Linked DNA regions of Homo sapiens: all the other regions are linked to region 4. The links come from fine-mapping of genetic effects on gene expression. A gene starts in region 4. Each other region holds a variant in brackets. All regions are shown on one strand. Distances are between the middles of the regions.

Region 1 (2,687 bases), 31 kb after region 4:
ACAACAGAGTTTCATGATTTTCAGGCCAAGACGTAAAAAGAAATACAGAAATAAATATTTTTTTTCATTGAAATAAGTAACTTTATGCACAATCTCCTGAATAAAAGAATAAAATCTGAGATTTTTGAGGCAGAGGGTGATGGAGGGTAGGATGAAAATAAAGTATTTGTGATGGTAATAAGAAAATAGCTTCACGTGAATCTCTCTAAGAATCCTACTTAAAAATCTTTAAGGTATTGACAAGGGAAAACAAAGACCCAAAAAAAACCAAACAAGTCTTTAACTCCAGGGTAAAAGAAAGAATGAAAATGAAATGTCTAATTTCATGGAAAGGTAACTCCAGGCAATATCATCTCTCTAAGAAATTCTCCTGGGTTTCATTTTTAGGCTCTTCCAAAATTAGGACAAGAGCCCTTTCTTACCTAGGCTGTACCTTGGTTCTTTTGATCTTGAGATAGAAATTTCAGACACGAAGGGACAGAGGCCATTAGAGAATTTCTTATCACCTTTATCCTCATCATACAGTACCAGGTATGACCCTCGTGGCTCCTGTCCTCTGCCTGAAGAGGACTTTTTGAAGTTTCCGGTGGTCTTTGGCCCACATGGGGTGTGTCTTTGTTCATCAGGACATGGATGAAAGACAGGTTGCCAACCCCTTGCAATTAAGTGTCTGCAGGCACGAGCTCGTGACTATTTCAAGAAGGATTGCTTTTCACTTCAAATATATTACTTTGTTCAAAGCAGATCCTGTGGGCTTACAGAGATATCACATCTTATCCTCTACTTCATTTGGTTCACCGAAGGACAAGTGTATGCCTGTCCTCTTAGAAACAGGAAAAAATACAAAGCACAATTTCTCAGCAAAGAGGGACTCCTCATGGTGAAGTTGTTAAACAAAAAAAAAAAGGCGACGTTTTCCTCTTTGTGTCAGATGTGCAGCCTGGCTTTTGGGAAGAGGTTTATAAATCTTGCAGTGCCTTGTTTAAGAACAATAATTAGTAATGGTCTGTTAATCCCATCTGCTTCC[C/T]AGAAGGAGAAAGAGTCACTACAGGGATGGATTAGGGCCTCTCTCCAATCCTACGTAGGGACATCTGCAAAGACTCTCATAATAGATGTTAAAAGCTTGACTAGAGAAGAAGAAAGTTGCCTTAGAGAGAATCTCTAAGGTAGAGCAAGAAGTAGATAAGATAATACTACTGGGAAAATCTACTATATAAGAGAACAAAACTTCACATCTACTAAGCAGAGATAAATAAAAGGAATACTTATGATTACTGAAGGTTCAGGGGACTCAGTAAATTAATACCCATCTTCTCTGCATAGCTCTGATTGATCTGGGAATAGACTGAAGAGATGGACAGATGGAGATAAAATATCAGCTTCACTATTGAAAGAAAGCTACGCTGAATGACATGGCTTAGATCTGTTGTAAAAGGGGCTTGCAAATTCTTTCTTTGAATTAGAGAGGTGTACCCAGGCTAGCACAGCAGGACAACTGCAGGCCCTTAAACCACAGCAGAGTAGAACAAAGTGTGTGCTCTCTGTAGGCAGGCACGTTACTCTTTAGCCTTTTCTTCCTTGATCTCTCTGTGGCATTTAAAATAATTGACTATGCTTTTCCCAAAAACACTTTTTTTGCTTGGTTTCAGGGACAACAAACTCTCCTGGTTATCCTCTGACCGTACTGGCTATGCCTGCTGCTTTCTCTGGCTGGTTCCTCCTCTTCTCCCTGAACTGTGAATGGTGAAATGCTGCAGCGTTCACGCTCCCCTCCCCTCCTGCATCACACATGCTTTCTGTGATCTTATTCCATTTCCCAACTTTAAATATGGGTTATGTGCATTAGCTACCAAATTTACTATCGAATCTACCAAATGACTACCAAATTTATATCTCCACCTAGGACTTCTCCCTGAACTCCCAAGACTCATACATGCAACTGCCTGGTCAACATTTCCACTTGCATGTCCAGTTGGATGTTGAATTTGACACATCCAAAACCAACCCCTGATGTCTGCTTCCCATCCCACTCCTCTCTCAGTTTTCCCCTTCTCCAATCTTCTGGTTGCTAGGTCAAAAGACTCACTACGGTCCCTGACACCTTTTTCTCTCATGCCATACATTCAGTTCTTCAACAAATCCTGCCGGCTCTACCTTCAAATTAAGTTAAGAATCCTACCACTTCCCCCCACCCTCAAAGAAACTACCCTAGTCTAAACCACCATCAGTTCTGGCTTGGGTCATTGTAATAGTCAAAAGTGATTCATCACTGCCAGTACCCCCACAGTCTGTTCTCAGAACAGCAAAGTGATCTCAAGGAACACTTTTAAAATCTAAGTCAAATAAACACTTCTGTGCCTCAAGGCTTTCAAAGTCTCTCTATTTAATCTAGACTAAAAGCCAAAGTCTTTATTTTCCCTACCAAGTCTACAGAATCTGTTCCTACTCTGGCCATATCTGACCTCATCTAATCTCTAATCTCTCCCTAGAACCATCCTTTCCTGGCTGGGCGCGGTGGCTCCCACCTGTAATCCCAGCACTTCGGGAGGCCGAGGCGGGTGGATCACTTGAGGCCAGAAGTTTGAGACCAGCCAGGCCAACGTGGTGAAACCTCATCTCTACTAAAAATACAAAAATACAAAAATTAGCCAGGTGTGGTGGCAGGTGTCTGTAATCCCAGTGACTCG
Region 2 (2,687 bases), 40 kb before region 4:
TTCTTGTGCCTCAGCCTCCCAAGTAGCTGGGATTACAGGTGCGCACCGCCATGCCTGGCTAATTTTTTTTGTGTGTTTTTAGTAGAGATGAGGTTTCACTATGTTGGCCAGGCTGGTCTCGAACTCCTGACCTCAGGTGATCCACCTGCCTTGGCCTCCCAAAGTGCTGGGGTTGCAGGCATGAGCCACTATACCCGGCCTTAAATTTTATTTTAGCCTCAACTGGATTAGATATCATCTCCTCGTTGGAAAAGTATATTGTTTATCGAACATTTTTTAAAAAAATTTTTAACTTTTATTTTAGGTTTGTGGGTACATGTGTAGGTTTGTTACATAGGTAAACGCGTGTCACGGGGGTTTGTTGTACATGTTATTTCACCACCCAGGTATGAAGCCCAGTGCCCAGTAGTTATATTTTCTGCTCCTCTCCCACCTCCCACCCTCTCCCCTCAAGTAGGTCCCAGTGCCTGTTGTTCCCTTCTTCGTGTTCAGAAGCTCTTATCATTGAGCTCCGCATTGTAAGTGAGAATCTGTGGTATTTGGTTTTCTGTTCCTGTGTTAATTTGCTAAGAATAATGGCCTCCAGCTCCATCTATGTTCCGCCAAAAGGCATGATTCTCATCTCATTTGATAGCTGCATAGTCTTCCATGGTGTATATGTCCCACATTTTCTTTATCTAATCTGTCATGGACGTGCATTTAAGTTGATTCCATGTGTTTGCTGTTGTGAAGAGTGCTGCAATGAACATTCGTGTGCATGTGTCTTTACGGTAGAATGATTTGTATTCCTTTGGGTATATAGCCAGTAATGGGATTGCTGGGTCCAATGGTAGTTCTGTTTTTAGTTCTTTGAGGAATTGCCATACGTTGAATATTACTTAAACTGAAAAAAATGTAAAGGAATTATGAGTGTGGACAACAAATACAACCAGAAAATCTGGCGGAATTAATAAATATTGTTAAAAAACTACTAACAGCCCTGGTTTATTCAACATAAGGCTTTGGCACCTAAAGAAATTTAACTGAACTTCATGGATTTATTGAAATCGAGATGCCAGTGGGCAAAACTTGTAGAAATATTTTGTTCAGATATTGGAGCTGACATATCCACTTACCACACGTAGTCAAA[G/A]TCCTGGTTACCATGAGGAAAAATACTCAAAAATAAGATTTAGATTTTGTTAAACTGAAAAACTATCTCATCTGGCAAATATTTTTGAACATGGTATTTGGATAGTAAAAGTGCACATTTAGCTGATTTGGGGGCATTATTTTCCTTTTTTTTTTTTTTTTTTTTTTTAAGACAAGGGTCTTGCTCTGTCACCTGGGCTGGAGTTCAGTGCTGCTATCAAAGCTCACTGCAGCCTGAAACTCCTGGGCTCAGGCATAACTGGAAATACAGGTGCACACCACCATGCTCAGCTAATATATTTTTTTTAATTAAAAAATTTTGGCTGGGTATGGTGGCTCATGCCTGTAATCCCAGCACTTTGGGAGGCCAAGGCTGATGGATCACAAGGTCAGGAGTTCAAGACCAGCCTGGCCAACATGGTGAAACTCCATTTCTACTAAAAATACAAAAATTTGCCAGGTGTGGTGGCAGGTGCCTGTAATCCCAGCTGCTTGGGAGCCAAGATCGCGCCACTGCACTCCAGCCTGGGACAGAGCGAGACTCCATCTCAAAAAAAAAATTTTAGACTGGGTGTGGTGGCTCATGCCTGTAATCCCAGCGCTTTGGAAGGCCAAGGTGGGTGGATCTCTTGAGGCCAGGAATTCGAGACCAGCCTGGCTAACATGGCAAAACCATCTCTACTAAAAATACAAAAATTAGCTGGGTGTGGTGGTGCACACCTGTAATCCCAGCTGCTCAGGAGGCTGAGCCACGAGAATTGCTTGAACCCAGGAGGAGTCAGAGGTTGCAGCGAGCCAAGATCATGCCATTACACTCCAGCCTGGGTGACAGAGCAAGACTCTGTCTTAAAAACAAAAACAATTAAAAAATTTTTCGTGAAGACAGAAATTCACTATGCCAGACTGGTCTTGAACACCTGGCATCAAGCAATCATTCCGCCTCGGCCTCCCAAATTGCTGGGATTACAGGTGCGAGCCACTGCACTCAGCTGTACGATACATTTTAAAATGTTAAACACATTTAAGGAATCTAAAAGGCAGCAATTTTAAAAGGTGGCTGTAAGTATCACACATTCCTCCCACCGAGAGGTGGGGTCTATCTAATTCCTCTCCACTTGAATCTAGGCTGGCTTTAGTGACTCTCTTGTAACCAATAAAATGTGGTGGGAGTGAGGATGCGTGAATTCCAAGGCTAGGTGAAAATTAGCCTTGCAGCTTCTGCTTTGATCTTTTGGAATACTTGGTCCAAAGGCTCTTCCTAGGACACAGCTGCTGTGTTCTGAAAACCCCAAGCTACATAAGGGACCACATATAGATTCTCTGGTCAATAGTACCAGCTGAGCCCAGCCTGCTAGCTATCCTTGACAAAGCACCAGGCACGTGAATGGAAAAGCCATCTGGGAAATTAATCCTCTTGTTCCAATTCTTCAATTGAAACTCCACTGAGCAGAATTTATGTTTATGTCTGTATGCAAGAATTATTCACATTGCTATCAGTTTTCCATATGTTGACTTATATTTCTACAGAGTTTTAAAATAGCCTAGTCAAAATCAAAGGC
Region 3 (2,687 bases), 27 kb after region 4:
GGAAGACTGCAAAAGGAACAAATTTTGGGGGAAATATCAGAAATTTAGTGGACATATTTTGCTTGAGATGTCTATTAGACATGCAAGAAGAACTACAAATAGGCAGTTTTGGATACCCTAGTCTAGAATTCAAGGGTGAGATCCAGGCTAGACATATAATTTGGAAGTTAATACCCGGGGAGTTTGGTGAAGGAATGGAAGAGTAAACGCTCTAGGCTGGTCATTTCTCCCCTGATTTTATTAACTCCTAAATGTAGGAGATTTGGGTTGCCTGTTTTGAGCCCCTGGACTCCTGTTTCACTGATTTCCATGGTGAACAGGTAGGCAATCATTGTCTCCAAGCAGAGTAGGAAAGGGGCAGAGGAAAATGCAATCTTGTTCTCGCTAACTTTGTCCCCTGCCAGTATTCTCTTCTGGGCTACAGTCAACCCTTCTTCCCCCCAACCTTCAGGTGCAGAGCTTCCCTCTCCCAGGGTTTCTTACTGTTGATGTAATTAGTTCCTGGAATCTATGTTTCCTTCTGAGCTTCTCCTTGTTTGATTCTGGGGAAGAAAGCCAGTAACCGATGCCAGTTTTCCATCTTTGCAGGAACTCAAAGTTCTATTAGATTTTCAAAATTAAACAAGGGGAAAGAATATTTTTTTAAGAGAAAAAAGATGGGGAAACTGATTTATCATCTCTTTCAAATGTCCTGTGAAACTATTCCAAGGAGGTTGATTCTGATTAGACTCAGACTGGGGAAAATAGGGATTCAGCAAAGCTGGGAACTGCATACTGGGGAAGAAAATAAAGAACTGACTACTTGCCAGGAAACAAAAAGTATTCCATGTGAAGACATGCTTTAACTCTAAAACCTTTCTGAAATTCTGCCTTGGGTAAACATGTATAGTATTTCCTCAAGAGCTACATTTCCCCAGCCTACGGTAAACAAGGGGAAAGATACCAAGTTCATCACAGATTATTTCTCTTCAATCTTGTATGATTCACTACAGTTATGCAGAGAAAATGTTTTAATATTATAAAGTCAAGCATAAACACCTACAAAGTTAAATACGATGAACATTAAAATAAACAGGAGAGGTAGTTTATAAAATTAAACTAGATGACATAATTGGAAGTTAATACAACTTAAATAGATCTTAGAAAAGTTTTCTGATGAAAATTAATATCTACATTTTTATATAGTTTCTCTTGATTGACTATGTCCTTAGTATACTCTGTATTTTGTTTTCTATTTTTGTACTGGTGGCTTTTAAACAATTTTTTACAGGAAGTATGTTTATTATCTACCAATACAGATGAAAAAGGAGTCAAAAGTGAAAGTTCCCCTGTGATAGCAGAACCTTCCCTTCATGGGTGCAAGGCAGCATACCTCCCAGAGATAACGGCTCTTGACAGTTTAGTATTTATCTTTCCAGACTTTAAAAACACAAATTAACATTTTTACATATACACACATATATTGAATGCATACATATTTCAGATATACGTAGAGAGATAATTACATCTCT[A/G]TATATCTGAAACTTATGATTGGTATGTTTATATATTATTAGTACATTTAGATCTATGTCATTATTTGAAATAGCTGAAATTCATTTTGCACATATATTAATAAATTATATTTTATTTCATTGAAAAATACACACAAAAAGAGAAAATTAAAAGAAACCTGCCTGTGGTCCCAGCTACCCTGGAGGTAGAGGTGGGAGGCTTGGGCCTGGGAGGTGGAGGTTGCAGTGAGCCAAGATTGTACCACTGCACTCCAGCTTGGGTCACAGGGCAAGACCCTGTCTCAAAAATAAAATAAAATAAAATAATAAAATAAAAATAAAATAGAATAAAATGAACCATATATTTTTATCCCTTTTTAAATTAAAACATTATAAAAATAATCTGAAAAAGTAGTATCTGGTCATTGGTCCCAGTTGTATCTCTTCTTTTCTATGTTGCCAGTTTGTATTTTTTGCACATTCACTAAAAGAGAGAAGAAATCCACAGATCTGTAAGGCTAAGGTGTAAAAAGGAATACATTCATAACAGAAGCAAATAAACTCTTGAATGCCTGGTCTTTAAGACTGGGGAGTGGAGGAAAATATATTCAACAATTTATCTGACAAGAGAACAGAAACGGAGGATTAAAATTAAGGTTAAAAAGAGAATTTGAAAGCAATTATATGAGACAGGCAGAAAAACTTCATGCAAAAATCCTTTCTTTAAAATGTTTACTGTTATTTAAGGTTGGCCTTGTAATGAGGAAAATAGCTTCATTCTTAGAAATAAGAACATACTTCAGGTTTTTCAGGCCAACCAATGTAGAAAAACATGAAGTGAGTTCTGTGATGAGATAGGTTGAAGTAACCCCCAGTACATTCACTTCTCTAAAAATAGCCATTTCTTTCATGACAAAATACCTATAGAAAAATAATGAAAATTGCCATTCTTGGTCTTTAAGCCTCTACTAGTGGAAATGGAAATTTCCTCAGCTTTTAGAGTCCATATCTAAGGTCTTTAAAGACCTAAAGCCCATGCAGTGAGAGAGAAAACATTTGTGAGAGGCAGGAGGAATTAACTCCATAAAGAAATACCTCTCTAGGGAATGTAAGGCTTGATTGCAGAAGTAAATATTAGCCTCAAAGGAAAACCTTTTGCAGTAAAATGACAAAACTTCATGTACTTAACGCAAAGGG
Region 4 (2,687 bases):
TAATCTAGCAGCACTCTCCTTGTTTTCAGGGGTGCAGTCCAGTTAGCCCATGTTAGCACTGATATAAATTTGGGGGAAGACAGCAATTATGCTCTTCTCACTCATTCTGTATTCTAGGTACCCAACTCCAGAGGATCTAACTGGCCAAAAGCAATGGTACAGCTCTGGGCCTTTGTGCATGCTCTTCTCTGTTGTGTGCACTCCTACACATCCCTGAGGCCCCAGCTCAGGACACTCCACTGAGGTCCCCATCATAGCCCCCTGGCAGAATTGACTGCCTCTGTGCTCCCTGCGTAGCGCATTTATATCTATTCTGCACAGATCTTGTTCTTTTACACAGTAGTCCCCCTTATCTATAGTAGATACCTTCCAAGCCCCCCAGTGGATACCTGAAACGGTGGACAAAACTGAACCCTGTATCTACTACGTTTTTTCCTATACATACATACCTATGATATAGTTTAACTTTATCAATTAGGCACAGTAAGAGATGAACAACAATAATAAAATAACAGCAATTATAACAATATGCCAGCATTGCTAAGCTTGCACTTTGGGGCCATTACTAAGTAAAATAAGGGTTACTTCAATACCGCCACGGTCGATCCGATCACCAAGCTAGCTACTAAGTGACTAAGGGCGGCTACTAGAGATAGGAGGCTGACCTTGGACAAAGGGGCATTCCGGTCCCAGGAATCAAGATTTCATCCTGCTACGCAGAATGGCCGGAAACTTAAAACTTAGGACTTCTGTATTTCTGGAATTTTCCATTTAATAGTTATGGACAAGAGCTGACCACAGGTAACTGAAATCGCGGATAAAGGGGGCTACTATCCGCAGTTCTCTAGTACTTGGGAGTTTCTTGCGACACTCATTTCTGCAACCGAGTGTCTCTCAACAAATCAAACTGTTCGGAATGTTTGGAATATTTTAAACGAAAGAATGCATTCAACAGGCAGTGCCCAACTCCCCAAGTTGGGATTCTCTCCTTGGATCAGTCTCTCCTGTTTACCCCCCTCCTCTCACCACCGGCTGCAGGGGGACCTCTCACTCCTTTCCTTCCCAGTCCAAATGCTGGGCGGTGGAGAGCCGCACTCGCGACAGACACCAGAACGCACCTTCGATAGCACATTCCTGCCCCACCTGCCCCTCAGCACCCGCTGCAGCCCCGACGAGGGTGGGGGTGGGAGGCAGCAATCCTTCAGGTCCTCGGCAGCCCTGCGGGCCTACCTTGTCCCCTTTGCTTAGGACCTGCCAAGGCCACGTCTCTACGCTTCCGAACAGCGAGTTCTTGATCATGCCCAACATGTTGTAGCCGAGACGCTCCCGACGCACGGGAGGACGTGAGGTGGCGGGGGCGACGGAGCACCACGGGCAGCGACCACCGGCGGCAGGGCGGCAGGGCGGCAGGGCGGCAGGGCGGCAGGGTGGCAGGGCGGCAAGGCGGCGGGACGGCGAGGCGGCGAGGCGAGAGGCGGGGCTAGAGGCAGGGGCCAGAGGGCGTGGCTAGAGGGCGGGGCGGCAATTCAGCCCGGCGGTGAGGCAAGGGGGCGGGACGGCGAGGTGAAGGGGCGGAGAGAGAGGGCGGGGCGGCGAGGCGAGGGGGCGGAGAGAGGGCGGGTCAGTGATGCGAAGGGCGGGCAGCAGGGCAGCAGTGCAGCAGTGCAGCAGTGCGGTGAGGCGAGGGTGCGAGGCGGCTAAGCAAGGGATGGGCCCGCCGTGGCGAGCCGCTGGGCCGTGTTCCGCCTCCTTTCGGGCTTTCCGCGGGTGTCTGGGGAGGGAACCCGGCCGCGGGCCTCAGGCCGTCCCCCTCCGCAGACCCCTTCTCTTATTCTGAGTCTAACCTATCCGCTGGGGCCCTGGAAAGCGATTCTCGCCTGGAGTGGCTTTAGGCAGCGGTGGTGGGGAACGTCCTCTCTCAGGTGCCTGGGCTCCAACCTCCGAGCCCCGGGTTGCTCACGCTTCTCCGGTCCTCTACCCGAAGGCTCGATCCCGCTGGTACAGCGGCGGCCAGGCTCCCTGTCTTGGTAGCTGTCCCTCTACCCCCGCCCCATGACCTCTTCTAGACCATTGAAAGAGCATCCAAACCACTTTCCTGCTGCCACTCTTTCCTACCATCCCTCTAAATCACAGTTTCCAGGTGACTTTTCTAAGCATGGCTTTTCTCGTTCACTCCTGTTCAAAAATCTTCTCACCAATTTTGTCACCATTTACTCAGCTGAGTGCCTGCTTTCTGTCAAGTATTTTACCAATAAATCTCTACTCCACACCACCGACAAGAAATATTTTGGAGCCATTTAAAAAGGAGGAAACGGAAGCTTCTGCCGCTGCCTGATCCTCCATTGCTCCGAGCCGCGCGGGTGCAGCGGGCTGTGGAGCCGCGGGCCGAGCCCCGCCGGAGCGCCCGAGAGCCCGCGCGTCCCGGGCGTCCGTCGGGGTCCGAGGTCCCTCCCTCAGGGAGTCCCCGCTCGGCAGCGCTCTCGCGTTTCACGCAGCGGCCGGGGATCTGGGACAGGCGGGGCCCCGAGGCCGAGCCTGGCGCTGCCCAGCGGCCGGTGCAGGCCTCAAGCTGGGCCGGGCGGAGGGGAACCGGCGAGTTGAAGCCCCGGGGCCGAAAGCCGGAGCCTGTGGCGGCCGCGGGGGTGGGGAGGGGGGTGGGGCGGCTTCTTGGGCAGCGCCACACGGCG

Which allele goes with the higher level. Alleles are on the strand shown, and positions count from the first base shown. SD is a standard deviation of normalised expression in the study named. Not every link is listed here.
For the expression in lymphoblastoid cells of the gene that starts at base 1,459 in region 4, allele T in region 1 goes with a lower level than allele C (moderate effect, 0.54 SD a copy in TwinsUK).

Evidence for each region. PIP is the estimated chance that this variant, and not a neighbour inherited with it, causes the effect.
Region 1: its variant is fine-mapped to the expression of HEBP1 in lymphoblastoid cells (TwinsUK, PIP 0.95).
Region 2: its variant is fine-mapped to the expression of HEBP1 in whole blood (TOPMed, PIP above 0.99).
Region 3: its variant is fine-mapped to the expression of HEBP1 in whole blood (TOPMed, PIP 0.99).

The regions. Positions count from the first base shown.
Region 1 is chr12:13,030,089-13,032,775 of GRCh38, forward strand. No RefSeq gene overlaps it. Among named protein-coding and RNA genes, the nearest start is that of FAM234B, 13 kb to the right of the region's middle. The variant C/T (reference allele first, on the strand shown) is at 1,028.
Region 2 is chr12:12,958,553-12,961,239 of GRCh38, forward strand. All of the region lies in intron 1 of GPRC5D-AS1 (GPRC5D and HEBP1 antisense RNA 1), which reads left to right. Among named protein-coding and RNA genes, the nearest start is that of GPRC5D, 7.7 kb to the left of the region's middle. The variant G/A (reference allele first, on the strand shown) is at 1,130.
Region 3 is chr12:13,025,887-13,028,573 of GRCh38, forward strand. No RefSeq gene overlaps it. Among named protein-coding and RNA genes, the nearest start is that of FAM234B, 17 kb to the right of the region's middle. The variant A/G (reference allele first, on the strand shown) is at 1,512.
Region 4 is chr12:12,998,807-13,001,493 of GRCh38, forward strand. It overlaps HEBP1 (heme binding protein 1), which reads right to left and starts at 1,459. Exons shown (of 4, transcript NM_015987.5): 1 at 1,231-1,459. The coding sequence starts at 1,308. The region is part of intron 2 of GPRC5D-AS1 (GPRC5D and HEBP1 antisense RNA 1); the gene reads left to right. It also overlaps the pseudogene HTR7P1. RefSeq lists silencers at 1,324-1,473, 1,524-1,643, 2,404-2,553.